2 linked regions of the Homo sapiens genome follow. The protein of the gene in region 1 purifies or fractionates together with the protein of each later gene. This does not show direct contact. Each region holds a gene or a part of one and is shown in the gene's direction. Other genes may lie near its edges. The genes, in order: BIN3 and ARHGEF37.

Region 1 (15,895 bases):
CCACCAAACAGGAACTGCAGACAAAGCCCCCAGAAGTTCAGGCCACCGCTTCCTTCCCTGCTGCACCCCACACTGTCCAGGGAAACCCAGAGGTTAGACAGCAAGGTCCAGATTCCCTCTGGGGACAAGAAGCCAGGCTCTGTCCTTGGTTCGCACAACATTCTGGAGCTGGCAGGGCCCTGGACGATCCTTTGTGTACAGCCCGGGCTCTGCGGCTCCCATCTTTGTGCACGCCCTGCACACACATGCAGGCAGCAGCCCTACTCAATTCTCCCACGAGCACACGCTCTCTTGCTCTCCCTCCCCCTTCTCTATTTCTCTCTCTGAGCTGTGCTCCCAGAACACACCCTCCCAGCCCACCAATCCTACACATGCCACTGCGCTTTACAAGCATCAGCTCAAGAATCTCCCAGTTCCCCACTTGCTCCCTCCACTCCATCTCTCCAACTCCTCCACCCGCAAAGGGTGGGCCCTGTCTGCCCACAAGACTAAGATGTCTCAGCTTCTCCAGGCCTGCCTTTGCAGGAAGAGTCTTTGCTGGCTTCCTGCAGCCCCTCATCTCCCTTTCCCTACAGGCAAAAGCAGCCCAAGGCCCCCACAGCCCGGGCAGCCCCTCCCCAGCATCTGGTGAGAGGACAAGAAGAAGGAAGAACTGTGGGTTCTTTTCCTTGAGACTCCTAGATTTTGTACCAAAATGCAGGGTGTGCTCCTGTTTGCATTTTTTTTTTTGTTTCCTTTCTGAAAATAACCATGAAACTATCATTTCCTCCCACTGCCTTTTCCCTATCTTATTTGGATTAGCAGAGTTGCTGCAAGAGGTGGTTTGGAGCCACTGACAGCCTCCTTTCCTGACCTGGGTCCAGGGAACTCATAGGTGGCTTTGGAGCGGGCGCTGCCAGATGGGCGCTGGGTCCTCTGGGATGGCAAGAAGGAGTGCAGGCACTGGGCACCATGGGGTCACCATGACCTCTTCAATTAGAGACCCCTGGGAAACCAGGTTTGAGCCTGCCTTGTGCCCACATTGGTAAATATCGGGAACAACCTCAGGCCTGGCTTTCTTTCTGTAGCTTTTCTGGAATGGGGGGGCAGCAGCTCAGCCCCCTCCCTTGGCTGACAGGTGGGGAAGATGCAATAGATATAGGCTCTCCACGTGGGAAGGGGGCCAATACAGAAGAACTGGTGCTTATACAAGAAGAAAAATGGGGTGCATGGTGAGAGGGGGTGCCTCTCTTCTCCCTTGTTTGTATCCAATGCCTCCTCCCACGCGGCTGTTCCGGGCCTTCATGCTGCTCGCTGAGAAGCAACCTCAAAAGGATCCAGCTTCAGGGTTGGGGGCAGTCAGAGAGACTCCCAAAGAAGCCTGCCTCTTATGCCACCCAAGGGCCTACAGGGCACAGCTTGCTTGAGAAACTGAGCTTCCCTGTAATCCCAGCACTTGCTTGAGAAACTGAGCTTCCCTGTAATCCCAGCACTTTGGGAGTCCGAGCGGGGAGGATCGCTTGAGGCCAGGAGGTCGAAGCTGCAGTAAGCTACGATCACGCCACTGCACTCTAGCCTGGGCAAAGAGCAAGACTCTGTCTCAAAAGGATAAAAAGAAAAACAAAAGAAAGAAAGAAAGAAATGAAGGGGGCAGCAACCCAGGCCTCCCTGCCCTGAGGATAGTTCTTTCATGAGGCCCCCCGCCACAGGCCTTCAACCTCTGAAGCCCACCGCTGCCTGACTTGTTTCTGGTTGAAGAAGACCCCAGGGGAGGGCCCCTCTGCTGGTGCTGCCATCCCTGGGGCCTGGCCAGTTGCAGTTCCATGAAAAGCAAAGGATGGCTGAGGCTGGAAAAGGGGACCACGGACCAAAGTTGCTTGGTCTGACCTTCCTGGCAGAGGGAATTGGTGCCCCCGGGAGCCTTCCTGCCCTTGTTTGGCCTCTCTTCCGTCCTGCTGTGTGCCTTCTTTGGGGATTCCTTCCTGATCAGTCCAGAGGTACAGCAGGCCAGGGCTGGAGGGTTGCAGCCGGCCTGGCCTCAGTGGCACCACTGTCTCCTCCTATCCATCAGTGAGGCCTTCTCCACATGCCCCTCATGCTGGTTACCACCTTTTCACTGTGACCAGATTTGGCATGTGCCCCATCTAATTTCTCTAGGCCAGCCTGCTGCAGCGGAACCTCATCCCTTTCTTTGAGGGTCCTGGCTTGCCCCAAAGGTGCTGGCCTTGGCATGAAATCCTCCCCCAGCCCCCCGTTGTCCTTCCTGACACATCCACACTATGCATCCCTTGGTTCTGCCTCTTCCTTCCCAGCGGGACCCTTCTCCTCCCCCAGGCTGAGCTCCTGGGCTATTTAGGGCACTGCCGGCCTTGTGGTGTAATCAGTGCCCGGGGATAATTGCCACCTGCCCTGCCGGTGTCTGGGGGCTGTCTCCACCACAGCAGCAGGGGGTGGACGCTGGGCAGCCAGGCCTGCAGCAAGGTCAGGCTGGGGCAGTCCTGCCCTCTCCCCAGGCCTGCTGCTCACGCGTGGGACTTGCAAGGATTCCCTAGGAAAGCCATGCGTTCCTAGAAGCTATGCTCACCTGGGACACTCTGTGGCTTCAGATGGGGGTGGATGGCTATCCCAGCCAGGGGACAAAAGTCCTGAGGCTATTCTATGCACCCACACACAGCCCAAACCCTGTTCTTCCATACTACCTTCCGAGGTCAGGGGATACCCCCTGGCTGCTGACCTCTGGACAGAGCAACAACCAAATCAAGAGGGACTTGGATTTGACCTTCAGTCCACCAGGCCTCATCCTCCTCCTTCAAGGAGGCAGCAAGGGCTAATGACTGTGAAAGTGAGTCTACTATAAACGCTAGCTTCCTCCCTTTTTGCTACATTATTTTCTGCTCCAAGGCAGCCTGGGTTTAGACAGCCTGGGTTTAAATGCCTGTCCTTCTCACTTAGCCAATTCTGTGAACTTGGGCAATTAGTTCAGCCTCGGTTTCCTCATCTGTAAAAAGGAGATGATCAGAGGAGCTGCCTCACCAAGTTACTGCAGAATACACGATCTAATACATGTAAAATGCTTCACCCAGTGCCAATGAGACTCTACAATGGTGGGTATTATTATCGGGAACTGCAAAGGGCAGAGAACGGGGGTTGGGAGCATCCATACGCCAGCTCTAGGTTGCCCAGGAACGCAAAGCGGGGCTGAGCGGACAAACCAGAGGCAACCCCAGGACTGGACACTCTCTATGGCAGCTAAGATTCTGGAGGCTGGGAGTGGGGCATCTCACAGACCTTCTCCATCTAGGAGCACCCACTCCCACTCTTTTGACCTCATTTCCTGTAAGGTGGTACCATAAAAGCTTTTTGAGGCCAGAGCACACCAAATACCTGTGACTACTTTATTTTCCAAAGAGAAAGTCAGCAGCAGCAACATCCAGATGAAATACTCTGATCTTGAGAGATGCAGAAATCGAATTATGTTTCTGTCTCTTCCTTTCCTGTTACAGTAAAAAGGTTATTTGTCCTAATGCTTGAAGTTCTTTACACAAATATTCATGGCCCTGTCACTTGAAAGGCCATTCAGATAAATAAATGTCTGCTTTCCAGAGTGAAGCATTTGGGGGTGGGTGGTGAATGGGATGAAGGGGTGGGCCAAAAGACCAGGACTGACAAGGTCAGCCTGCCCCCAAAGCAACCAGGCAACCCAGCACCATTTTCTCCCTGCTTCAGTGCCTTCCCCAGCAGGGCCCAGAGCTCCCACTTCTGACACCTTGCACCAACAGGCTAGACTGGAACCTCAGCTCTCCAGCCCCACCAGCACCAAGGTGGGAGCAAAGAGGGCCGCACTGGGTAGGAACATCAGCCAAAAGTACTAGATACTGCCCCATGGAGATGGAGAAGAAGGGAGAAGGCCAAAGGGTGGGGAGTGGGGCATGAGCACCAACCTCACCTGCCAGGAATGTCTCAACCCCAGGTAGAGCCATGAGGGCCCCAGCTCAAGGCAGCGGCCTTAGCCATACCACAGCCTGGCATGAGCTCCACATCACAGACATCCTGAGCCCCAGCTCAGGAGCTGTGTCTTCAGTGACTTCCTCTGACTTCCCCTTCTGGGTGTGCCCTGGAGCTACCTGGAGGAACAGACCATCCAGACCCAACTCAGAATCTCAGGAGCCTTGGACTCAGTGGTCCTACTGCCAGTTCTCTCCAGTGGGTACCTCCTATTGTGGGTCTGGGGCCATCTTAGAGCCTACCTGTCAGGGGGCAGCCCAGCCTGGACAGCCCTTGGCCTGATGCCCAGGGAACATATCAACCCGGGGGGATTGTTTTCCCTACTGGTGCACTCTCCCTCACTCATGTCTCCTCCTGGTTTCTGTGAGCTAATCAGAGAGAAGGAGGGGGAGGAGGGGGTGCTGCTTGCCTTCCCCGTTATCTGCAGCAATCCACGGTGACTAATGCTCCCAGTTGGTAAAAAGGCAGTGTAATCAAAACACTTTTTTTTTAGTCCTTAAAGTTAGTCATTCTCCCAGAGTGGAGGAAAAAAAAAAAAAAGCCCACAGCAGGCACCACGAGATGCAAGCTGAGAGGCCTGCACTGCTGGGTGGAACCAAAGCATTGGCTGTGGCAGCTCCTGCAGGTCAGAGGCCAGGACTCCTCCTCCTCTGGGTCCTTGGCTATCCTTCCTCCACACCCGCATTTGTTCTTGCTTTCCCCAGCATCTGGGCCTTCTGATCCCTGAAGGACGTCCATGCCATGTGAGGAGCTGCCCTTTCCTGTCACCCTGCCCGGTGCTGCCACCTGCTGGCCTGGCACTCTCCGTACTGGAGGAAGCATATAAAAGCTCCCAGGATGAGGCTGAGCTTGGCACCCTGGTCATAGGGTGGCCCTCCCTCCACCCACAACCTGGCCATTTAGTAGCGGTGCTTCTCCTGGTTCCATCTGTCTGCTGGCTTCTGACCTCACTGTGCCTTGACAGAACCAAAGGTTGTTGGAGGTCAAATGGCAAACTGTAGTGGCAAAAGCATAAGGATCAAAGCCAGGGTGCTCAGGTCAGAAACCCCACTTCACTGCTTCATGAAGCTATACTATTGCTTCATGGCTATACTTCAGCGCCATCATCTGTGAAATGATAATAATGGTAGTATCCACCTCACAGGGTTGAGGCAAGGATTAAATGTGAACTGCAGAGAATAGTGCCTGTCATGTCATGAGTGCTCAATTATTGTTAACTTATAATAAAAATAATAACAATAAAGTGGAATATAAACCATCTCATCGCTCTTTCTTGTCCAAGGCAGACATGACTAATCAATCATAGAACTTCCCCACTGATGGCAGATTCCCCAGAATCCTCAACACTGCATTCCAAGCAGACAATCAGAGTTGGCACATGGGATGATATCCATTCGCCCTCCCAGATCTAACCTGGACCTTTCCCATTGCAGTCAAGGAAAATGAGGCCCAGAGGAGGGACAAGACTCCCTCAAGCCACTTGGAGGCAGAGCCACGGGTCAGACAGGCGTTCCTGGTTCTGCTCGCTTCTTGCTGTCCTGGCTTCTGATGTGTCACTTCACCCTGACCTTTGAGCAGTCCGTGTGGGCCTCCCACCACTGGAAATCTCACCCTGATTTCCTCCTTCTTCTCCCACCCTTGCTCCTCCTCCTATGTCCTTGCCCCCCAAAGGCCCTGGGAAAGCTATTTTTCTGAGACGTCCTACTGAGCAGGTACAGAGTAGGGAGAAGTGGGGCAGTGAGGCCACAGAGAAACCTGAGGCCTGTGTCTGAATATCTGCAGGAGCCTCCCTGAGGAATCAAGACCTTTAGGGCTCCAAGAGAGCTGAGCCCACCAATTTGGCCCTATCACATTCAGTTTTTCAGCCTTAGCCCAGTGCTATAATGAAGTCCCTGACAGCCCAGGTCCAGGTTCTGGGAATGCTCACTCTTCACTAATAAGAGGTTGGCATGGTGAAAGACTCGGGGGCCAGCCCTAGACTTCTGTGTGGGAAAGGCTGGGAGAGACAGGACATGACAATCCCAGAGATGAGAGTCAGTGGGAAGCACCTGCTTACCAACTTCTGAGCAAAAACCTCCAAGGAAAAGTTGGGGGCTGATGGTGGAGCAGGTTCTGCTGCTGCTTTTCCCCTCGTAAACAGCTTTGTCCCAGAAGTAGACCTCTGCCACCTGAACAGTCTTTTACCTTCAGGCTCAGACTTCTGGGGAAGAATCAGTATTTACAAGGCTTGAAACCAGGAGTATCCACCTCTACCCAAAGCGCCTCCACTCTCAGCTTCTACTTAGAAACCCAATTTTCTCTTTTCCATTCCTTCCCTGCAGGGGCAGGATCAATCTGTATCATGCTGTCCCTTTGGTTATAAATAAGAAAGACATAGCTCCCGACCCTGCAGGCTGAGTTTTTCACAACAGTGGGAAGTGTTTGTGTGTCTCCATGTTCAGCTCCCCAGGGATCAATGCCTCATGGCACAGCAGGCTCATGGAGGAACACAGGATAGCAGGATGCCTGACTGTCCCTCCTCAGCCCAGTGCCCCTCTAGCTGAGCGAATGAGCCACAGGTAAGGAGACCAAGCAGGCACATTCCAGACAGACTCCTGGGAGGACACCATTCTTTTTAGTAACCTCAAAGATCCTGCTGGCTGCATTAAAGATTTCGAGGTGACCTGTCAACAGCACAGCCCCAGAAAAATTCATATTTAGCTTTATCCAAGATATCACCAGTTCCTCAGACCTGCCCACTTCTCTGGGCTTGCCCCTCTGTTCACCTGCCTTTCCCATTCTCCTATTTCCCTAGGGCCTCTAGAGTCAACAAGACAGCTGACTTGGAACCTTGCAATGTTGGATACTTTGGGATGTGATCTACCCACTCCATCTTATAGATGAGGGGACTAAGGCCACAAAGGGGATGTGACTTATCTGAGGTCAGTTATAGTGTCAAAGGTTGAACTGGAAATAGAGCCGCAGACTCCTCCAGACTTGTAGTCCAGAACTTATCCATTCTAGTCCTCTAGGATGTGTCTGCTGCCCTCCAGCCCTGAAACAGACTTCTACTAGGATATAGCAGTTACCTAGGCTAAAACGTTTGGAAATATTTATCCCTGTGGGGCATAACTGAGGGAGGCAGAACATGGGGAAGGGAGGAAGCAGGTGGGAAAACTATTCACAGGTGCTAACTGCCAGGAGGCTCCTAAACCCACAACAGCCCTTCCATCCGTCACACTCTCTGCAAAGCAGCAAGGACTCTCTCTTTCCCTTTACCCACACTCTCTGCCCAGGCTACCCTTTGGTGACTTCTGCTCTTCCTCTTTACTCTTCAAGGCTGCTCTTGTGCTCATTTTGGCCTGTTTCCTGAGGAACAACATGGTAATGAAGCTGATCTGCATGATGTGCTTGGGGATCCAACCTCCATTGGAAACGTCAATTGAGTCAAACTATGGACTCTCAAGAATGGAAACAGAAAACACAAATGAGAGACTGCATCCTGTGGCCCACCCTCCTACCTCTCCTGCTCAAGCCCTCTACTCCACCCTAGGAGGTCAAAACAAATCATACACTACTTCTGCTCTAGGTCATTGGTCATATTTTTCCCGCTAGGTCATTGATTAGCAACCCCCTAAGCAGTCCCTGAAACAATCCCGGTCCATCTGAGGAAGGAGAATTCCTAGAGAGAAGGTCACTGGGGGCCCAGCAGCACCTGCACGGGCCTCACTGCCTTCTTGTCTCTCTTCCAAGGCAGGGAGGTACTTAGCGGTGAGGAAACCAAGTCGGCCCAGAATCCCAGGCAACTTGTGAGCCACTAAGGCCCTGAATTCTGACTTTGGGAGACCCGAGGCAAGTCAGCTGCTTGCTTGGTCCTGTCTGTGTCTTAGCCATGGTAAGTTCCCTCTGCCTGGAGCCTCGTCACCCCTCATCTCAGATTCACCTGGCTAGCCCCGATTCTGCCTTCAGGGCTTGGCTTACACACTGGCTCCTCCTGGAAGCCTTCCCCAAAACCCCATGTGCTACTTCAGGGTCCCCTTCTAGGCTGCCACCACACCTCATTCTATCCTATCCTATAGCATGATTATAATTGCCTGCTTGTCTCTCCCTCCAGGAAAGTAGCTCTGGGAAGGAACAAGAGCAGGGCAGATACTTCTCTGAGATAGCTGTATCCTAAGGTTGGCTCGGTACCTGACACTAATATTAGTGCAACTAGTATTAGTTAAATGAAGGAATAGAACGAATGGGGCAATTTACATCATTTGAGTCCTGTAGAGGAGACCAAAGGGAAGGGCTGAAAGGCAGGGAACAACTCATACTCTGCGTCTTATTGTGTTGAATAACTCTAGGAAACATTCCAACCTGAAAAGCACCTATCTATTGATATTCAGAGCCCTGTGCCATCTTGGAAGGGAAACGTCCGTTTGTTTGTAACAGGTAATGCATGTGTGGTGTACAAACTGTAAAAGATAGGAAAGAGCATTCAGAGAATGTAAGTTTTCCACTTTCTCCATCCCAAATGGCTTCTTCTCCCACAGACAATTGCTGCCACTGTCTCTGGATTAGAAACCACTTGACAGAGGGGACAGCCCGGCTAAGGGCCCTGCATGGTCAGGTGAAGAGATCTTTAGGAGTCAGTGTTGAAGGCAGAAAACGCCCCCAGAGGTTCCCCTCATCCCCCGTTGCAGCCTGTGTGTCTAAGCGCTTGGCCAGAGCCAGAGAGTCGCCGGCAAGGGAAACTCCGCGGCGAGCACGCAGCAGCAGAAGGGTTAACGCGCCGGGCTCCGCCTCCCAACCGCCTCTTCCGGGCAGAGAGGCGGGCTTACGTCACTTCCTGGAGACTGGTTGAATCCGGAAGTGACCCTAGAGAAACGAGTTGTGGCTGAGGACCCCGGCGGCAGACGCAGGTTCGGGACCATGAGCTGGTGAGTGAGGCCCAGGCGGCGGGAGCTGCTGGACCCGCGGACCCGCGAGGCCCCTGGCCCTGTGTCAGTGCCGCGTCCCGGCTCCCTCCGGTCCCGCGCGACCCCTCCGCCCCAGAGCAAGGCCCGACAGCCCCTGCCCTAGGGTCGTTCCCTCGGTGCTTTCCGGAGTCGCAGTCTCTCAGCAGGACTCCCGGGGAGAGTGGCGGATGATCCTCTTAGCCTGGGACTCCGCGTCTGACCCGTTTTGCCGGACTCGCGTCCTCCTAGCTCCTTGAAGTGAGGGACTTCCTTGTTCCCTCCTTTTTTAAACACCCATTGAGGTGGAGTCAGTGTCGTCTTTCTCTCCTGTGGGCATCTCTGCCCCGCGCCAGTCCCTCCAGAGCTGTGGCCCTCGCTGTGGCAGCCTGGACCCAGTTCACTAATCAAAACCCACTCCCTTCTGGGTAACTATCCTCTTTGCACGACTTAGCAGGCTTCAAAAGACAAGGAAAACTTGCTTCTCTTTTTAAAGGGGCCAGAATTACACTCCGCACACACCCTTCCACTGTGGGATTGGACTGGTTTTAATCATTCCAGAGCTATTACTCACTGCCTGCCCTCTAAATAGGCATGGTTAAGTTTAAACTTATGGGAACTATCATGCCATGAGAAAAGAAGCCAGGGAGTCTTAGAGTAATAGAGTCACAATTCCAGTTGCTGCAGTATGATGTGATACTTGGGTCATAGTAGACACTTCATAATGGTGTATTTATTTTGTAAGACTCAGTTTGCCCAAAAGGCAATCCCCATTTGTTGCTCTCGATTATTTATGTTCACAGGAGAGAATTGTGACTTGCCTGCCTTCCTGGGGCTTTCTTAGAGGTTAGAGAATACTCATATGCAGCACCTTACCTTACCGTCAGGCCCAAGGACCTATATAGCCACAACCCTGGACCTCAGGGGATTCAACTATAGTGTGTGAATAAATTGAGCCCCAGAGATGTACAAGATTAATCAGCCCATGGACATAGGGAACATATTTGCCACTCTGTCCTCAGAGGCTAGTGTGTTTGTTTATGCAAAGCGCATGATAACCAGTTATGAATGAATTAAGATAACAGAATGTCCTTCAGGAAGGCTTTTGAAGCTTAATTTTGGCCATCAGTGGAGAACGCAAGCAGCTGATATCAGTCAGTGTCAGGGATACTTCTCTAAAGTAAAATGCGAACCATCTGTCCCCTCCCCCACCTGTTTCTTAGACCAAGATTGATGGACAAATGTCAGACAATCACCGCAAGCACGGGAGGAAAGCCTGAAGCAATGTCCTAATAAGCCCCGGCAGGAGCTTCTGCTTTTCCCTCCACCATTTGCTCCAGGAGGCCAATAAGGGGCTGGAGCCTTAAAAAGCTACCTTCCCTGTCTTGTTATAACCTAGTTAGTGGTGGGCAAAGCGGCAATTCTTCAGTTCCCTTTCCCAGAGGAATTACGTCCTTTCAGTGTCATTCTGGGCCCCCCAGTCTTGCAATATAGATATCCTTTTGGCTGCTGCGTCTTGAATCTTTGGAGTGTTCTTACCTAATTTTTCAAAGTGAAAATGAGGCAGTACAGATGCTTTATATTGCCTAGATTGGCCTTTACTGAACCAATCTTTCCTTCACAAGTTGGGAGAAGAGCACAGCAGAAACTAATAAAGGTAAATGATTCTCTGGGTGATCCGAAGCAGGTTGTTTCCACCTGTCTCACAGAAAGTTTCCCTTCTGAAAAAATAGTAGCCCATTCCTTAAAGGTTATCCTGTCAGGTTGGAGAGAATTGAGATTGACAACTGTCTAACAAGAGCTGAGATTTTCATCTAGTAGCTTTAATTTACCAGTACATGCACATCTTGGTATCTCCTTGGACTGAGAGTCACAGCCAGAAGGGTGGCTTTGTCCCTCAAAGCTGAGATTCCTTTCTCTTCCCCCTTAAAGGGCTTCTACGTCATCTCTTGCGTGGACCCTGACCCTGTCTCTCAAAGACGGGAACAGCACCGGCGCCTGGGCACACAATCACACTCAGTTCCTAGCTCAATGGCTGGCAAGGAGACCGGGGCTGGGTCCTTCTGATTCACTCCCTGAGTGGTTTTCCTGCCCCCAGAATGAATCCATCCATTCATGTGAGACTGGAATTCTCATTAGGGGAAGAGACCAGAGTGACGTAGAGCCATCATGGGAGGCTGATGCCCAAGGTCAAGTTCACCAAGTACATGGGCTGTGCCAAGCCATCATTAAATAAGGCACATGGCCCATGGTCCCCAGAGGGTAACCATTGTTCTGGGCTAGGCTGAGCTTTCAAAATGTCACAGTGAGAAATGTCCAATATTGATGCCCTTTGCACACTGTGGACTTTGCATGAAGAGTGAGAGGCCTTTGTTCTCTGCTTCCTCTGTGCAGGCAACCCGCCCACCCCCTGTTTGTTTAGTGGGTACCTGCTGCCTTCCTGCACCATCTACCCATCCACTCCCCATACACCCATCTGCCTTTCAGAAAAGTGACCCGGTGGTCTGTCCTACTAGGAAGAAGGCATTTGATATTCACATCTCAGATCACAGATTCACTTCTTGGCCTCAAGCCAAATGCTTCTCTCTCTCTCGCTCTCTTTTTCTCTCCCATTGTCCACCCCACCTCCCCCCGCCATTTGCCCCCCTCCCAACTTTCTCTCCTCTCCTCCCCACTCACCCCCTCCCTCCCTATTTCTGTCTCCCTCTTGTCTCCCTTTTCCCCTTCCTGTCTCTCTTCCCCATCTTCCAGTGTATACTCAGGTGGCTTTATTATGGTATGGAGAGAGGATTAAGTAGAATTAAGAATAGTGACCTCAATCTAAGCTGGCTCCAGGAATTGTAGCCTCCTGTTGAACCATACACCTTGATGATTTTAGGCTTAAACGAGGAGGAAAAGGGAGTACTGGAAGAAATCTCCCTATACCTAGGGGTCCAGTAGTTTGACAAAAAGGAAGGAAATTAGAGGCAGAGCAGGTAAGTGTGAGTAGGAGTTAGAGTGCTGCGTTCAGGTTCTGGCTCAGCCACTCACAGTGCGGCCTGGTCAAGCATTGAGCTGTTCTCTGTCTTAGTTTCTCCATCTGTAGCATGGAGTGGCCATTCCTGCTGACAATTTGCCACCTGAGCCTGCTGTGAAATGAGTGGAGTGATATTTTTCTGACTCTTCCGGGGTCTTCTACCTCTGTCTGCCCTTCACACTTTGGTGTTCCTCATGTTTGATCCTTTTTGTTTCTTTCCTGTTTTCACCCTGTAGTCCCTTGCCATCATCTTCAGGATAGAGGCCCAACTCTGGGCCAGGGCTTCTGAGGCCCTCTGGGCCTGGCTGTCCATCTTCACTCCGTGTGTTCCATCCTCCAAGCTTCTCCTGCTCTCTCGTGCCCATGTGCCTCTGGATAACTGTCCCTTCTGCCTGAAATGTTTCCCCTTCACTCACACCCTGTCCACTAGGCCAGCATCTACTCATCCTTCAAGAGTCAGGCCACGCTTCACCTTCTCTGAGGGTCTTCCCTGAGTGGCCCCTCACACCCTGCCATGCTGCACTGGGTGCCGCTCTTCTGACCTTCATCAGCATCTGTACTCCGCTGGCTGGTTTACTTGTCTGTGAGTTCTTGAGTATGGGGACTGTCTTGTGGTCATTGCTATTCCCTAGCACTGTTCCTGGCAGTCAGGAAGTGTTTATTAAATATATGAATGGGGCCTTTTTTCCCTTTTCCTGACTTGCCTCAGCTCAGGAAAAATGTTAAGATAAAAACTTGCAGAACCTACAAACCACTTCCTAAAATGAAGAGCCTCTGAAAGTACTATTGTTAAATTGACCGACACAAGTGGCTTCCAGGTCAGGCTGCCTGTGATTTCTCCTCCCCACTCCTTCTGATCCTCCACTCCAAAGTGCTTTGCTGGGTTTCTTCTGTACTTCCATAGTGCTTCTCCTGTAGCACTTCTGCATCCTTCTGAGTATCACAGACGTACACCTCCCTTCCACACCAACCCCATGAGAACAGGAGCGACATAGAGCTTCTTCATCTTTTTGTACGCATAGTGGGTATCATGCACATAGTGGGTATCTAACAGGTAATTGTTAAATGAATGGAATATAAAGAAGGTAAACTTCTGGGTCAAACAAAACCATTATTCAGTTTTTTTCTCAGTGAAGTCCTTTCCCCTATGATTACCGTTGCTGTCTCACATGTGTAGAGTGCTTCTAACTTTTCAGATGGCTTTCCCGTCCTTTGTCTGACTTCATGCTTATGTCTGCGCAAGCAGTGCAGTCTTATGATCCCCCTTGGTAACTTACTAGAATTCACTCAGCTAGTACCTGGAAGAACTAGAACTAAAATGTGTCTCCTGAGTATTCTGTCCCCATGATCAGGAATATTAGAAGAGTAGCAGACCATTCCCAAGCTGATTGGATCACGGAGTTTCACTTTGCTAAGGTGTGTTGACACTAGCAGGTTGGTAGTGAATCACAGGGAGTTGACAGTCTTCACACATAAGTGATAGAGGAAGTCCTTGTGTCCTGCAGACCTCTAGGTGTTCTGTAACTGGCTCAGCTTCTTCCACCTATGGGGCCCCTGCCTAAGGCAGCCTCATCACTCATGTCCTCTGTGACTTTGGACACACCAAGCTTTTCTTCCTCTGTGGAGAGCATAGTAATGCCTTGAAGACAGGGGCCCTATAAAATGTCTGTGAGATTCTGTATGTGAGCTTGCTCTTATTTCAGGCGTTTAATGAGAGGAGAAGGATTTCTTCCAGATCTTGGAGCAGTCAGAAAGAGTCAAGTGTCTTGAGTCCCACAGCTACTTAGTCAGAGGTGTTATATGTATTATACTCTTTAAGGAAATCTGTCGGAGTAAGCTTTAGAGTCAGCTGTTAAACCTATTAGAATTGTTTTCCCAAACTCATGATTTTGGTGGCTAATCCATCAAATAGGGCCCAGTATAGTGTGATGCACATACATGGTGCTCAACAAATATTTGTTGATTTAATGCTTGTTCAACATTTATAATGTGCAAAAGTCTGTGCTAAATGTTGAGGAACATTTAAAAGACTTGCATGAGTCGATCTCTATCTTCAGCCGGTGTATGGAAAGTGCTAGGGATTCAAAAGGACAGCCGATCACTAAATGTCAGTATGGCATCATCAAGAAAGACTTGAAGCAGATGTAATTTTAACTGAACCTTGACTTAGCAAATACGTGCTGTTTCAGTGGGAGGGAGAGAAGGATCCAGGTAAGAAGCATGGCATGAAAAAGGTGTGTGGAGTCAGAATGCGTCAAGAGTGTTTGTGCGGACTGTCAGGAGGCCAGCTTGGAGGTGGTAAGTAGTGGTTTGGGTAGAGGCTGCATTGGGGAGAATTGGCACTCCACCTCAGGGCCACGTTATATAGTGCTTTCAGTGCCATGCTGAGGACTTGAAATTGAGCCTAGGCTTTTGGAAATTGAAGGCTTTTGAGCAGGGAAGTGGCATGGCCAAAGCAATGATTTAGTCAGATTATTTTGGCAGTGGCCTGCAGGATAACTCAGAAGAGAAAAAATGGAGCCAAGGATGCTAACTTGGACAATAGTTTCCTTTTTTTTTTTTTTTTTTTTTTAAACAAATCGGGGGGTCTCACTGTTGCCCAGGCTGGAGTGCAGTAGTGCAATTACAGCTCACCACAGTCTCAAACTCCTGGGCCCAGGCAATCCTTCTGCCTTAGCCTCCTGAGTGGCTGGGACTATAAGTGTTAGCCACCACACCTGGACTAGTTTCCACAATTTTTTGAACACAACTCACAGTTAGAAATACCTTTGATATCACAACTCACACACACACACACACACACACTTATACTTGAAATAAAAGTTTGACACAGTATGTGTGCAATGCACTCTGATATTTTCTATTATGTTCTTGTTCATGGTTTTTCGTTTTTTGAGACAGGCTCTTGCCCTGTTGCCCAGGCTGGAGTGCAGTGGTGCCATCTCAGCTCACTGCAACCTCTACTTCCCGGGTTGAAGCGATTCTCGTGCCTCAGCCTCCCAGATAGCTGGGATTACAGGCATGCACCACCATTTTTTAGTAGAGACTGAGTTTCGCTATGTTAGCCAGGCTGGTTTCTAACCTCTGGATTCAAGTAATCCACCCGTCTTGGCCTCCCAAAGTGCTGGGATTACAAGCATGAGCCACCGCGGCCAGCCTTGTTTGTTTTTTTAAAGAATGACCCACCTCAGTTGACTTTTTTTTTCTTTTTTTCTTCCTGAGGTGAGTGCATATGATTTTTTAATTTCATGACTGATTTTGATCTATGTATATAATGGAAGACTGTGTAGCAGTTTAAATGACCTTTGAGTGATAGATGTTCTGCAAAGACCTCAAGTTTGAAAACCATCTGTCTAAGAGTATCATTACAAATACTCAGACGATAAGCTAACACCTTTGACTCCAGCAACTGAAGATAGGGTTACTTGTGTATTTGGTTGTTTCACTGGGTTAATAAAAAATAACAGAAGGGGCAGCTGTAAAGAACACTGGCTGAGTTCTTTATAAGAACTTATTCCATAGATTTGAAAACTGTCAATTGCTTTCCAGAAAAGAAAACCCAAGTGAACAAAAGCTCATGTAAAGATGTTTGGTCCTATTAGTAATCAGGAAAAACAGATTAAACCAACAATGAGATGCTGTTTCACAGCCATCAGACTGGCAGAAATTTTAAAGCCTGACAATGCCAAGTATCTGAGGGTGAGGAATAGTAGGAATTCACATACACTGCAGGAGGGGGTGTATATTGGAGATTTTGGAGTTGGAACAGTGGCTGTCCCCTACCCTAGAGAAACTCCCATACCTCCATGCAGCAGGGGACACATGCCAGGAGTGTGAGGGGCATCGTCATGTGCAGATGCCCAGCCTCTGGAGAATGGGGAAATAAATTGTGATGTCTTTACATGATGATATGTTATGGGCCGGGCGTGTTGGCTCACGCCTGTAATCCCAGCGCTTTGGGAGGCAGAGGCGGGCA
Region 2 (14,764 bases), on another chromosome or scaffold:
TTCAATGGCTCCCCCATTACCTACAGATTACATTTAAATTCTTGAGTATGGCACCCATGCCCTCATGATCTGGTGCCTGCTTATGTCTCCAGTCTTGTCTGTCACTGAACAATCCATGCAGATCATTCAATCCACTTATAATGAAGTTCCTGCAGTTTCTGAAAACACAAGCTAGTTTCATATTGTTATGCCTTGTCTGTACTTTCTGTCTGGTATAACTTTTCATTTTCCTGGTAAGAAATGTTTCTTTACAGACTCGGTAGGAAAGGTCACCTTATCTTTGGCTCCCTAATTTCCCTATAGAATTGCCAACTCCCTGTTGTAGCAGACACCGTTGGCTGCCTACCTAAGAGCATTCCTCTTTTTCTTTCCTCTTACCCAATAAGATCCCAGTTTTGTTAAGGCTACATGGCTCTATGCTCAGGGGACTGACCCAGTGATGGGTCTTCATCCCTCTAGGCCAGTGATTGGTTTAGCTATGCACGTGGGATACTATTCTAAGCAATGAGACATGAGGAAGGGTCTGCTAGAGAGCTTCTTCAAGGGGCTTCCTCTCTTGAAAAGACACAAAGTAGAGATGGCCCTTTCTTCTGTTGGACATTGTAGTTTTTGGATAAGTTGGATTTCTGTCACTGCAACCAAATGACTATTTTTTTTTTTTTTTTTTTTTTTTTTTGGAGACAGGGTCTCACTCTGTCGCCCAGGCTGGAGTGCAGTGACGCAATCTCAGCTCACTGCAACCTCTGCCTCCCGGGTTCAAGCAGTTCTCCTGCCTCAGCATCCTAAGTAGCTGGGCAGATTGCTTGAGCTCAGGGAGTTTGAGACTAGCCTGGGCAACAAGGTGAACCCCCTGCCGTCCCCCCCCTCAAAAAATACAAAAAATTAGCTGGGCGTGTTGGCACCTGGCTAAGTGGTGGTTTTCAATACAAAATGTAAAACAGGGCCAGGCACAGTGGCTCATGCCTGTAATCCCAGCACTTTGGGAGGCCGAGGTGGGCAGATCACCTGAAGTCAGGAGTTCCAGACCAGCCTGGCCAAAGTGGTGAAACCCCATCTCTACTGAAAATACAAAATTAGCTGGGCCTGGTGGCACATGCCTGTAATCCCAGCTGCTCTGGATGCCTAGGCATGAGAATCTCCTGAGCCTGGGAAGCGGAAGTTGCAGTGAGCCAACATCATGCCATTGCACTCCACCCTGAGTGACAAAGCGAGACTCCGTCTCAAAAGCAAACAAATAAACAAAGAAATTGTAAAATAGGCCCAGAGAGGGTATGAGATGCTGGAAGAAATGCAGGCTTTGAAGTCATACTTCTGAGGTTTCAGTCCCAGTTCTGTCATTTCCTGGTAGTGAGGCCTGTGTGAGCTTCTGAATCTCTCAAAATGTCAGTTTTCTCATTTGTAGAAAGAAGATGGTAACACTTATCTTTTAGTATCATCTAGCAGAATGCCTGGCTTATAGGCTCAATAAAGCAGACAGTCTTGTTATAAAAATTATTATACATTAGTAATGAGGCTACTAAATTTGTCTGTTATGTGATAAACGTTTAGCCACCATAACATAAATTTGTCTGTTATGTGATAAATGTGTGAGCCACCACGCCCGGCCAACCAATAATTTCTTGACTTGTCTTTCTTACAGATTGATATCTCAGGGCCGTGCATGGTGGCTCACACCTGTAATCCCAGCACTTTGGGAGGCAAGGCAGGTGGATCACCTGAGGTCAGGAGTTTAAGACCAGCCTGGCCAACATGGTGAAAACCCATCTCTACTAAAAATACAAAAATTAGCCAGGCCTGGTGGTGTACAACTATAATCCCAGCTACTAGGGAGGCCAAGGCAGGAGAATCTCTTGAACCTGGGAGGCAGAGGTTGCAGTGAGCCGAGATCGTGCCACTGCACTCCAGACTGGGCAACAGAGTGAGAGACTCTGTCTGAAAAAAAAAATTGATATCTCAGGAGACAGAAGAAATAATTCTCAAAACTTACGTTCTAGACTTAGTAGAATACACTTTTTACACGGTTATAGAGATCTTTGCAGAAAGCAACCACACGAGAAACACTGTGGTATAGTAGTAGACTTGGCTTCAAATCCCAGTCACCTATGAGCTATATAATCTTGGACAACTTACTTAATCTTTCTGAGCCTCAATTTCATCATCTGTAAGATGCAAATAATATCTATCATAGGATGATTGTCAGGATTAGAAACAATCTATGAAACATTACTGACATGTATTAGGCACTCAATAAGTAGCACCTGTTTTCATTATTACTATGGAAAGAGTGGTAGATTTCACAAAGTAGAATAAAAAATTAGATATGATCCCAAGACTGAGACTCTAAAAGAGGTAGACAGCTTTTAAAAAATTTATCAGAAAAATGTATTTACTTGACTCATAGCATTGCGCGTATTGTGGTGCTAAGTACACATTTGGCACAACTTACCTCTTTCTTCTCAACCTTCTTTTGCTTACCTCTGGAACAGCAAGTGATTCTAATGATTAAAAAAAATGGTATGGGAAGAAAGTATTAGTGCTATAAAGAAGTTCTCTGATTAGCTAAACTTATAAAAGGTTGAGAAACAAACATAACACCCACTTCTCCAGGTTTGGAGCATTCAGCTCAGTTGCTGTATTAAGTACATTATGCAGATTATGTTCTTCAATTCTTTTAGTTTGGGGCCTACCAATTATTAGAAGATGACTTCCATGTGGACATTTGTCATTTTCCTGGCTGCCCAGCCTTCATGTTACCATTATACATTTGGGAAACAGGACATTGTGTAAAGCAGGGCCCTGGATCTCATTCATGGAAGCCAAAAGGCCTTGGTATCAGTTTTCTCTGATTATGATTCTGGAAAGAAGAATGAAGAGAAGCAGGCAATGTGTAAAGTTTATTCAGTAAATTTTAGTGAATTTCAGTGGTGGTGACATTCAGTAGCCGGTAACAGTAATGGCAGCTAGGTGATCTATGGCATCCAGTCCCCAGGACCAGAGCCTGAATGGCAGGGCCAGTGGCATTGCCAGTGTCCAGCAGAAACATCTTTCCTCTGGCATGGTCTCCTCTGTGGATCTGGCCACCTGGCCTCCCACAGCGCCTGTCTATATTACTAATCCAGTTCTCTAGCCTTTCTACTGATTCTTTGAGCTCCCAAATACTCTTCCAAGAAATTCCTTTTCTGCTTTGGTTAACCAGAATCAGCTTTTGTCGCTTGCAACCATGGACTCTGGCTAGTAACTAGTCTTTAGGTAATGTGCAACCCAAAAGACTCCAGTGCTGCTTACTTTAGTAAAAATCCCTTAATAAAGTCATGGTCAAATTTGCAACTGGTCTAGGAGTTCTGTCAGGGCTCCCTTTAAGGCCCATACACCTCAGGCAAAAGAAGAAATACCAAGGAAAGGGGCTGTTGTCTCTTGACTCTCAAATGTCTGCTGCCCCACCCTAATCCACCTCTTTGCCTCCTACAATGTCTTCACACTCACTTATCCACCCATTCAACAAACACTTATTCAGCACCTACTATGCACAAGGCATTATGGCAGGCAATAAGAGGAATCTAAAGATCAATAAGCTAACCCTGACAGTATACTTTTGAATTTTGAACTGGCACATGTATTTTCTTTTCAAAATACATAAAATTTAAAAATGGATCACTCTGTCAAAGGTAGAAGTGAAAGCGAACCCTTTTTTCTTTGGATTAGTGTCACCGAGGGCAAGGTGATGTCCATTTCTTTGTAAATGTTCTAGAAATCAAATGGATTCCTTTGTTAGAGGTTTCCAGTCAAAAGCAAACATCTCTCCAGAAGACTGAGAAAATAATGCCCCTTCTAAAGTCAACAAGTAGATTGCCGCTCTTCAAAATCTGTGTGACTAGGGTGAAAGATGGTGGAATTAGTGGCAGTGCATTAGAAATGCCACTCAAAATAACTGAGTCCTAAAATAGAATCAGAGAAACATCAGTTTCAAATGAAAAATATTATCCAGCTTATTTTGGTCTCCTTAAATTGCCAAGTAAATACTTGGGATCCTATAATACAGCAGCTGCCCCGGGGAGTGTTGACACTTACGTCTAAAACCACAGAATACTCAAGCAAGGAAGATGGGCACACATTACAAGTGCAAAGTATTCCATCACGTACTTCTGAAAAAAAGCGCAAAGTAAAACATGTAAAGCAGATGATTTCACACATTCAGGAAAAACTGGTCAGGCACATACACACTTTACAGGAGTGTGAACTGAGGCGTTGAGCACTCACAAGACCCTCACCTGGAAACAATCAGGAAGTCTGATCTAGGAATCAGTCTCAGCTTTGGGGTCAGCTCTTCACTTCCCGGCTGACTTTGGACAAGCCACTTAGCCACTCTAAGACTCACTTAGTTTCTTTATCAGTAGGTTAGAATAGACAAAATATCAAAATTGAAGAGAACCTTAGAGATCACCTCAATCAGTTTTTAACTTGTACCAGACTTTTCTTTGAAGCATCCCTAATAAGCTTCTCTGCTTGAATGTTTACTTTTAGTGACAGGATATGCTCTCCAGGCAACTGATGTTATTATTATTATTATTATTATTTTTGGGACAGAGTCTCACTCTGTCGCCCAGGCTGGAGTGCAGTGGTGTAATCTTGGCTCACTGCAACCTCTGCCTCCAGTGCTCAAGCAATTCTTCTGTCTCAGTCTCCTGAGTAGCTGGGATTACAGGTGCCCACCACCATGCCCAGCTAATTTTTGTATTTTTAGTAGAGACGGGGTTTCAACATGTTGGCCAGGCTGGCCTCGAACTCCTGACCTCAAGTGATCTACCCTCCTTGGCCTCCCAAAGTGCCAAAGGGATTACAGGCGTGAACCACCGTGCCCCGCCAACTGATGTTATTTTTGAAATACTCAAATTGTTAGAAAAGTTCTTCCTTACATTTTAAATTGCAATGCATCTCCTTACAGCTTTCTGCATCCTGGTGGCCTCTAAGATCATACAGGTTAGGTCTAATCCATAGGGCTACTTTTTTGAAAAGTCCTCAGCTTCCCTTGCTTTTCTTTTTTCTTTCTTTTCTTTTTCGAGACGGAGTCTCGCTCTGTCACCAGGCTGGAGTTCAGTGGCGTGATCTCAGCTCACTGCAACCTCCGCCTCCAGGATTCAAGTGATTCTCCTGCCTCAGCCTCCCAAGCAGCTGGGATTACAGGTGTGCACCACCACGCCCAGCTAATTTTTCTATTTTTGGTAGAGATGGGATTTCACTATGTTGGCCAGGATGGTCTCGATCTCTTGACCTCGTGATCTGCCCCCCCCTCAGCTTCCCAAAGTCCTGGGATTACAGCCGTGAGCCACCGCGCCCGGCACCCTTGGTTTTTCTCTTCTGCAAGCTATACCACCCCTCTCCCCTTCAGTTGCCCTCATCTGTCACATTCAAGAGGAGACACTTTTCTGGTTTTCATGTTTTTCTGAGTGTAGAGTGGTGGTTAAGCAGCCTGAACCCTCAGATAGTCTGAATTCGAATACTGGCACTGTCACTTAGTAGTTGTGTGTCATGGGCAAGTTATTTTCACCTCTGTAGCTTAAGTTTCTCTCTCTTGAAAATGAGGATAATAATAATGATACCTATCTCTTAGAGAAATTGTGAATGAGATAATTGAGACAGTACAAGTAAAACATTTAGTATAGCGCCTGGCCCTTAGTAAGCAATATGACTACTACCAGCAGTAATAATAAATAATAAGCCCTAAATTAAGCCCTAAAAATGAAAATAAGAATAAAAGAAGTGGCAGAATGAGAAAAGCTAATCTAGTCCATTCCTGACGCTACAAACAAGGTTTGGTTGCCCCGATATGAAACTTTACATGCGTTTCATAGCAACTATCACTTTCAATGGTGGGTTTAGTGTCTTGCACAGGAGCCCAATAAGGCCAGGACCTTGTCTATCGTGTTAACTGTTGTGTTCTCTGTGCCCAGAACAGTGTCTTGCTCCCAGTAGAGTGAAAGAATGGACCAACACCGTCATGTCATGGAAGCGACTGGCCGACTTGGCTAAGGTTGTGCAGGGCTCCCAGGAGAGCTGGGGCAAGAACCAAGGGCTCCTCGGCAGCCAACACTAAGAATTAAATTGAGGCCCAGCCCTACAGTTTGGTGATTCGGGCAGGAGCAAAGGTATCCAGTAATACCGGGGTCAGCATTCCCACCGGGTGGCCTAAATGCCGGCTCCTGTTTTCTGGATGACGAGCCCGCGGAGAAGGTGGCTTAATGAGAGGCCGCGGGAGGGTGGGTGCCGGCACGTCGCTAAACTCCGCCTGCAATCCTTCGGGTTGGCTGCCAGCCAGGGCACGGTTCCGAGCCGGCCGGGGCTGACTCCGGGAGCAGCGAACAGAAAACAACCTGGCTCCAGAAAGACAATTAACAAAGGCTGGAGACCAGCCACCCCCTCGCGGCGCACGCACGCAGGCAGCTGCGTGGGCATAGCCGCGCCCGCCAGCGCCCTCGGTGGGCACAGCCACCCGGAGCGGCGCGGGTGCCGGGAGCTGGGCGACGCGCCCCTCCTGCCCCGGCTGCGCTGTTGCCCGGGCGGCCGACCTCCGTGCGTGAGCGCCGGCAGGCACCTTGCGCGCGCGGGTGAGTCCGCTGGGCGTTTGGGGCCTGGTCAAGCAGGATGGGGCTGGAGAGGGGTGCAGGAAACAGCTGCTGGGAGGATCAGAAAAGGGAGGTGGGACAGAAAGGCAGGATGCGACGACCTCCCGGGTCCCAACTTGCTTGGTAGCTAGCTTTGTGTCTTGAGCCTTATGAGAATGTAAGCCACCTGGTCCATATGGCCTACCCTAGTCGTTTTACAGGTGGGAAACTGAGGCCCAGGGAGGTTAGCCGGCCTGGAAAAACATTATTATTCTTTGTTCCTGTTTCTCTCTGCCTTCTTCCGTGCAGGATTTCAGACAGCTTTTAGAAAGAATGCATACATTATAACAACGGAAAAATACAAACAATGGTAAAGAATCCTTGCCAAGCAAAATATAATTATGAATAGACAGTCAAGGCCAGGAAAAAAGAGAACAGAAATCCGTGATCCATAGGTGAGGTGACTTGGCTAAGGTCCCTCAGAAAAGTCGTGCCAAAGCTGGGACTAGAAGTCAGAACGTCCGGCTTCTGAACGCCAGAAACTTACAGTGGGGAAGCAGACAGCCTGCCCAGGCACTGGTTCTTAACCTTCTGGGGGTCCCTGACCCCTTAGAGATCTGTGTCCACTCCCAGCAGAAGGGTTCACACAAAGCCTTGTGCACAGTTTGAGATTTGACATGAATTCCTGCTGTAAGGAATGCCTGCAGGCTGCTACTCAGGCAGGGTGGTTTCAGAGCACTTTCTTTGCTCCTTTGAAGGGAGGCAGCTGGTGGAGGAGTACCTGCTGTGCGTCCAGACAGCCAGCTGTGTGATCCAGGAAGCATAGTTTAACCTTTTCAAGGCCTAGTTTTATGTGTAGACGGGGGATGAGAGTGTCTGCTTCATCCTCCAGGTTATTGTCAGACTTAAGAATGAACATAAAGGCTAGTGCTTGACATAATATATGCTCAATAAAAGTGCTGACGATTATAGGGTGACTATAGTTTACAATAATCTATTGTATATTTCAAAATAGCTAGAAGAGAATAATTTGAATGGTTCTAGCATAAAGACAAATATTTAAAGTGATGGATATCCCAAGTACACTGATTTGATCTTTATAAATATATTAAAGTATCACAGGTACCCTGAAACTATGTACATCTATTATGTACACAGTTTAAAATTTAATTTAATTAATTAAAAAAAAAAGTGATGACACACAAAATCATCAAAGCTGTGGGAATTAGGAAAGGGTGATGACCTGGAAGAAATTGGGCTGTATCTGAAATAAAATACAATTTAAAAAATTATAAACATGAAAAAATAAAGTCAGCCCTATTATGACTTACAGACCACACCACATACCTTCGTGATGGTATCCTAAATAAGGGTGCAGCAAGGTACTACCCTCAATATTTGACTCCAAGTCAAAAGCTGAAAGTAGAAACTACCAGATACTGTAACAAGGAGTGTTTACTGGGCTTCACTTGCCTCTTTCAAATGGGGTCAACACCCCGTTTTTTTGTTGTTGTTTTTTCTTTGTTTGTTTGTTTTAGACGAAGTCTCGCTGTCTCCCAGGCTGGAGTGCAATGGCACAATCTTGGTTCACTGCAACCTCCGCCTCCCGGGTTCAAGCAATTCTCCTGCCTCAGCCTCCCAAGTAGCTGGGACTACAGGCACACGCCACTATGCCCGGTTAATTTTTTGTATTTTAGTAGAGATGGGGTTTCACCGTGTTGCCCAGGCTGATTGCAAACTCCTGAGCTCAGGCAATTGCCTACCTCGGCCTCCCAAAGTGCTGGGATTACAGGCGTGAGCCACTGTGCCTGGCCTATAGAGTTTGTTTTTAAATGAGAGGAAAGAGGACATAAACTGGGACCTGAGCAGCACCCACCCTTATTCAGCAATAGAGCCTCAGCTGAATTTCTGCCAGGGAATAGGAGTTGCTGGCAGTTGGCTCACATCCCTCTTGGATCAGCAGATTACTGTGGTAAACAGTGCCTTGGCTGATTCTGCCCTAGATCAAATAAATGGCTTTTTATTTAACTAATGAGGTAGGGAATGTGTTTTCATGTGCTGTAACAGAAGCAAAATGGCATTTGTAGAGCTTGACTGTCCAAAGCCTATTGCTTGTTTATTAATAGGCTGAAGAATTTGTTTATTTGTTTGTTTATTTAGAGACAGGGTCTCCTCTGTCACCCAGGCTGAGTGCAGTGATGCAGTCACAACTCACTGCAGCCTCAACCGCCCAGGTTCAAGCAATCCTCCTGCCTCAGCCTTCTGAGTAGCTGGGACTACAGGCATATGCCACCACACCTGGCTAATTTTTTACTTTTTGTAGACACGGGGTCTTGCTATATTGCCCACGCTGGTCATGAACTCCTGGATGCCAGTGATCCTCCCACCTCAGCCTCCCAAAGTGCTGGGATTACAGGCATGAGCCACTGTGCCCAGAGAATTTTATAATTCTAATAATTGTTATTATTTTCTTAATTCCCTAATACTGGAAGGCTCAAGAACTTTAAATCTATGGATCCAAACTTGTGATGACAGAGCCTGGGCAGACTCACTTATCTATAAAAATAACTGCTTTAAAAAAAAACTGTGTTGTCTCCTTCCTCTTTTGGAAGACCTTTTTAGGCCTTCCAAATAGAACTGGGGAAATATGGCTAAGGACAAACAGCTGCTGTTTGATTTGGGTTAAGACACATACCACCTGTCCTTTCCATGTATTTATAAAGGGGAGTTTTTCCTCCAGGAAAGAGAGAGAGAATGTGTATGTCTGTCTGCGTATGGGAGAGGGGATGTCTGTTGCTGTCTTTCCGCCTCACTTCCAATCATTTATTTATCAACACAGAGAAGTCCTTTTCTGTAAGCACAGTGACTTGGAAAATTCCTTCCCTTTTTGGCTCTGTGGCTCTATTTTGTTTCACAGTAGTTTCTAAAATATTGGGATGTTTTTTCTAATTTTGACTATAAACTGTTCTTTATATGTTTCTTTTCTTTTTCTTTTTTTTTTCTCTTGAGATGGAGTCTCGCTCTGTCGCCCAGGCTGGAGTGCAATGGCATGATCTCTGCTTACAATAACCTCCACCTCCTGGGTTCAAGTGATTCTCCTGCCTCAGCCTCCTGAGTAGCTGGGATTGTAGCTGGGATTACAGGCATGTGCCACCACTTCTGGCTAATTTTTGTATTTTTAGTAGAGACAGGGTTTCACCATGTTGGCCAGGCTGGTCTTGAACTCCTGAGCTCAGATGATCTGCCTGCCTTGGCCTCCCAAAGTGCTAGGATTACAGGCATGAGCCACCATGCCCGGCCTTCTTTATATGTTTCTATATTGTTTATTTAGTTATATAATGAGCAAGAGCCTCTTTCATTATTTAAACAATTTTTCTAAATGTTGTCCAAAGAATATATATGGGTGGCAAATAACCACTTGAAAAGATACTCAAGATCATTACTCATTAGGGAAATGCACATTAAAACCACAGTGAAATATCACTTCATAACTATTAGGATGGCTAAAATGAAAAGATTGGCTCTACCAGATGTTGACCAGAAGGTAGAGGAACTGGATCTCTTATATACCATTGGTTGCAATGTAAAATGGTACAACTACTTTCAAAAAGATCTTAGTTAAATACACACTTAACTTATAAAGTTAAATATACACTTATCATGTTATCCGGAAACTTCACTCCTAGGTCCAGCTTTATTGTAATAGTGAAACGGGAAACAAACAGTTGTTTATTCAGTGTGTGAAGAGACAAATTGTGGTATATCCATATAACAGAATTCTGCTAAGCAATGGAAAGTAACGATGTATTGATACATGCTTCCATACGAATGGATCTCAAAATAATTTTTCTGAAAGAAAGCCCCAGGCAAAAAACACTACATAGTGCATACTGTATTATTTATTTATTTATTTAGAGACGGATTCTTGCTCTGTTGCCCAGGCTGGAGTGCAGTGGCGTGATCTTGGCTCACTGCAACCTCCGCCTCCTGGGTTCTAGCGAGTCTCCTGCCTCAGCCTCCCAAGTAGCTGGGATTACAGGTGTCTGCCACCACGCCCAGCTAATTTTTTGTATTTTTAGTAGAGACAGGATTTCATCATGTTGGCCAGGCTGGTCTCGAACTCCTGACCTCAAGTGATCCGCCTGCCTTGGCCTTCCAAAGTGCTCGGATTACAAGTGTGAGCCACTGTGCCTGGCCTGTATTTTTCATTTTACATAAAATTCAAAGGGAGTTGCTATTCCATACCTGAACTCAAACTTTTTGGTGGCTTCCAAGAAGAACCAAGAGTTGTGTATGACCATATCAGTCTAACTCCAGTTGCAACAATGTCATTGACAATTTGATATTTATTCTGCCAGTGTTTGCCCATGTCTTTCATTCATTAATTCAATTAATTGAGCACCAACTAAATGCTAGATCTAGAGTAAACACTAGGTAATGCACTGATGAATAATAGACACATGATCCCTGCCCTCATGGAGTTTCCATTATTTTGAATGAAACTCTGAGTCATACAACAAATAGAATAAACAAAATAATTATCATGGGAAAGGAGTGGTTCTTTTGAAGTGTGATGGAAATCAGTGATAGACTTGTCTGGGTTTCAAGCAGAGAAGTAAAGTGACAAATTTTATGTTTTTCTGTTTTTTGTTTTTGTTTTTGAGATGGAGTCTTGCTCTGTTGCTCAGGTTGTGCAGTGGCACAATCTCAGCTCACTGCAACTTCTGCCTCCCAGTTTCAAGTGATTCTCCTGCCTCAGCCTCCCGAGCTGGGACTACAGGCATGCACCACCATGCCTGGCTAATTTTTCTTTTAATTTTCAGTAGAGATGGGTTTTCACCATGTTGGCCAGGCTGGTCTCGAACTCCTGACCTCAGGTGATCCACCTGCCTCGGCCTCCCGAAGTGCCGGGATTACAGGTGTGATCCACCATGCCCAGCCCAATTTTATGTTTTTGAAAGACCACTCCACTCTGATGCTGTGTATCCAGTCAGGAAGCTGTTGTACCAGTCCAGGAGAAAGGTGGTGGAGGTTTAGACCCAGATGGTCTCAGAGTTGGAAAGCACAAATTAGTAGATATCTTTAATAAAACAAAACAGAGCCCAGAGGTGGACACTGATCAACACTCTTTGAATTTAGTAGTTTTATCACTTTTTAGTCCTTATTACTGTCCTGTCTCTGCCCTCTACACCAGCCTCCACCACTGCCTCTTATTCCATACATGTAAGTATGTCACAAGAGACTGACAACACCTTCCTGGTCCAGATACACTGGACTACAGCATTCCTTTGATCTACTGATCTAGTTGACTGTCAGTAAGAGAATGAGGAAACTCTGGCATGACCAGTTTTTATTAAATTAGCCTATGCTGACTCCAGATGATCTCTGTTTCCCTTTCTAAGGGCTAATGAACTATTTGTTGTAATCAAGTGGCAGAAATCCAGCTCAGAGTGGCTTAGGGAAAAGGGGGATGAGGAATAAAAATGTATTCACTCATATGAAAAAGGCAATCAGTCTCTATCATGGCTGAAATGAGTCATGCCATCATTTCAGTCTCTCTCTCAGTCTCTCAGCTCTGTTTCTATGGTATTAGTCTTATTCTCAGTAAGGCTCTGATATATAGTTCTTCTTATTACTATGATTAGCTGTTTATGGCACCTGCTTAAATATTATGCATCTAGATCGGCCATGTGTCTTTAGACAACTTCATACATCTGATCAATGGTAATGCTACCCTTTCCATCTTAACAATAATAGAAGCAAAAAACCACAGCTACTATAATTGAGAGTTTACCATGTACCAGGCACTCTATTAAATATTTTACTTGGATTATCTTAGGAAATCTTATAACAACCCTGTAAGAAAGGTTATATAAATATCCTAGGAAAGCCAGCTAATGGATTGCAGAATCAGCATTTGAAATGACATTTTTCTGGCTCCAGGGCCTGGGCTCCTAACCTTCACCACACCTCTCACAATCAATCTTTAGGACTAAGAAGAGGAAAGCACTGCCACCAAATAGTGTGCCTCTCTCTTACTTTTTCTGAACATCAGTCTTAAAATATGCTTGGTAGTGATAGTAGGGATGGGACTTTGGAAGTTATCCTTATAATTTTGTTGATTCCAGCTCTTTTGGGGGTTTTAGAGTTCTGGAAGCTCTTTGTACAGGATCCTCCCTTCTGACTATGGTGTCTATCTTTATAAACCAGGCTTGGTAGCCAGGGTCCCTATGTGCACATTCTTGTTTCTGTAGGTCTTCCCTCCCTTTAGTCTTTTTTTTTTTTTTTTTTTGGAGACAAAGTCTCACTCTGTCGCCCAGGCTGGAGTGCAGTGGCATGATCTCAGCTCAGTGCAACCTCCGCCTCCTGGGTTCAAGCGATTCTCCTGCCTCAGCCTCCTGAGTAGCTGGGATTACAGGCGTGTGCCACCACTCCTGGTTAATTTTTTTGTATTGTTAGTAGAGACAGGGTTTCACCATGTTGGTCAGGCTGGTCCTGAACTCCTGACCCCGTGATCTGCCCGCCTTGGCCTCCCAAAGTGCTGGGATTACAGGCGTGAGCCACGGTGCCCGGCCTTTTTGTTTGTTTGTTTGTTTGTTTGTTTGTTTGCTTTGAGACAGAATCTTGCTCTGTCAGATTTTCTTTCTTACAGGGTTGTTATAAGATTTCTTAAGATAATCCAAGTAAAATATTTAATAGAGTGCCTGCACTCCATGCCAGGCTGGAGTGCAGTGGCATGATCTCAGCTCACAGCAACCTCTGCCTCCAAGGTTCAAGCAATTTTTGTGTCTCAGCCACCCAAGTAGCTGAGATTACAGGCGTGTGCTACCACGCCTGGCTAAGTTTTCATATTTTTTAGCAGAGATGGGGTTTTGCCATGTTGGCCAGGCTGGTCTCGAACTCCTGGCCTCATGTGATCTGCCCGCCTGACCTTCCAAAGTGCTGGGATTATGGGCATGAGCCACCATGCCCGGCCCCTTTATTCTTCAACAGGGTCCTTTGCTCTCATGATGTCTGAGCTTCACCTTTGACAGCTTTCTATGAACCATTCCTGGAGTCTGAGACCAGATTGTTTTCCTTTTTCCCCCCTTCCTTAAATGTTTAAATGGGCTCCTCCTGGGAGTAAGAAAGGGAAAGAAAAAAAATTAAAAATAAATAAATAAAATGGCTCCCCTTTAAAGCCTTGGGCAGCTAGCTGATGGATCCTCAACTTTCCCTGCCCAGACATTTTATCTTCTGAAAGAACTTTCAAATGATAATTTCACTTTCCCCAGGGATCAGCTTAGTTCCATTTTTCCATTCAGTTCCTCCAATTGGTCAAAACTAGGCCAGGCTCAGTGGCTCATGCCTGTTATCCCAGTGCACTAGGAGGCCAAGATGAGAGGATCACTTGAGGCCAGGAGTTAGAGACCAGCCTCGGAAACAAGTGAGACCCTGTCTCTACAAAAAGTTAGAAAATTAGCTGGGTATGGTGGCACATGTCTGTAGTCCCAGCTATGTGGGAGGATTGCTTGAGCCCAGGATTGCATCACTGTGCTCCAGCCCTGGGTGACAGAGTGAGATCCTGTCTCTTAAAAAAAAAAAAAGTTTTGAATATTGTTTCCTCTTGTTACTTTTCTCTCTTGAAAGGGATTAAATAATCAGGATGCCCATATCATTTTTTAAAAGTTTTATTATGTTTTTAATTGACACATAATGTTTTATTAATTAATTAATTAATTTATAAGACAGGATCTCACTCTGTTGTCCAGGCTGGAGTGCAGTGGCATGATCACTGTTCACTGTAGCCTCAACTTCCAGAGTTCAAGCGATCTTCCCACCTCAGCATTCCAAGTAGCTGGGACTACAGGCATGCACCACCATGCCTGGCTAATTTTTTGTTTTGTTTTGTTTTTGAAACACAGTTTCCCTCTTGTTGCCCAAGCTGGAATGCAGTGGCGAGATCTCAGCTCGCTGCAACCTCTGCCTCCCAGGTTCAAGTGATTCTCCTGCTTCAGCCCCCCGAGTAGCTGGGATTACAGGTACCCGCCATCACGCCTGACTAATTTTTGTATTTTTAGTAGAGACAGGGTTTCACCATGTTTGCCAGGCTGGTCTTGAACTCCTGACCTCAGGTGATCCTCCCGACCTAAGGTGATCCTCCCGTCTTGGCCTCCCAAAGTGCT

The links.
Region 2: the proteins of BIN3 (region 1) and ARHGEF37 purify together in Homo sapiens (affinity purification with mass spectrometry; 3 studies listed by BioGRID and IntAct, with this or other methods). This does not show direct contact.

Annotation. Positions count from the first base shown.
Region 1 is NC_000008.11:22,662,037-22,677,931, reverse strand, and holds the start of BIN3 (bridging integrator 3), read left to right. Parts: upstream 1-8,810; 5' UTR 8,811-8,880; coding exon 8,881-8,888; intron 8,889-15,895. UniProt on the Homo sapiens protein: Involved in cytokinesis and septation where it has a role in the localization of F-actin.
Region 2 is NC_000005.10:149,575,023-149,589,786, forward strand, and holds the start of ARHGEF37 (rho guanine nucleotide exchange factor 37), read left to right. Parts: upstream 1-6,475; 5' UTR 6,476-6,602; intron 6,603-14,503; exon of another isoform or gene 14,504-14,620; intron 14,621-14,764. UniProt on the Homo sapiens protein: May act as a guanine nucleotide exchange factor (GEF).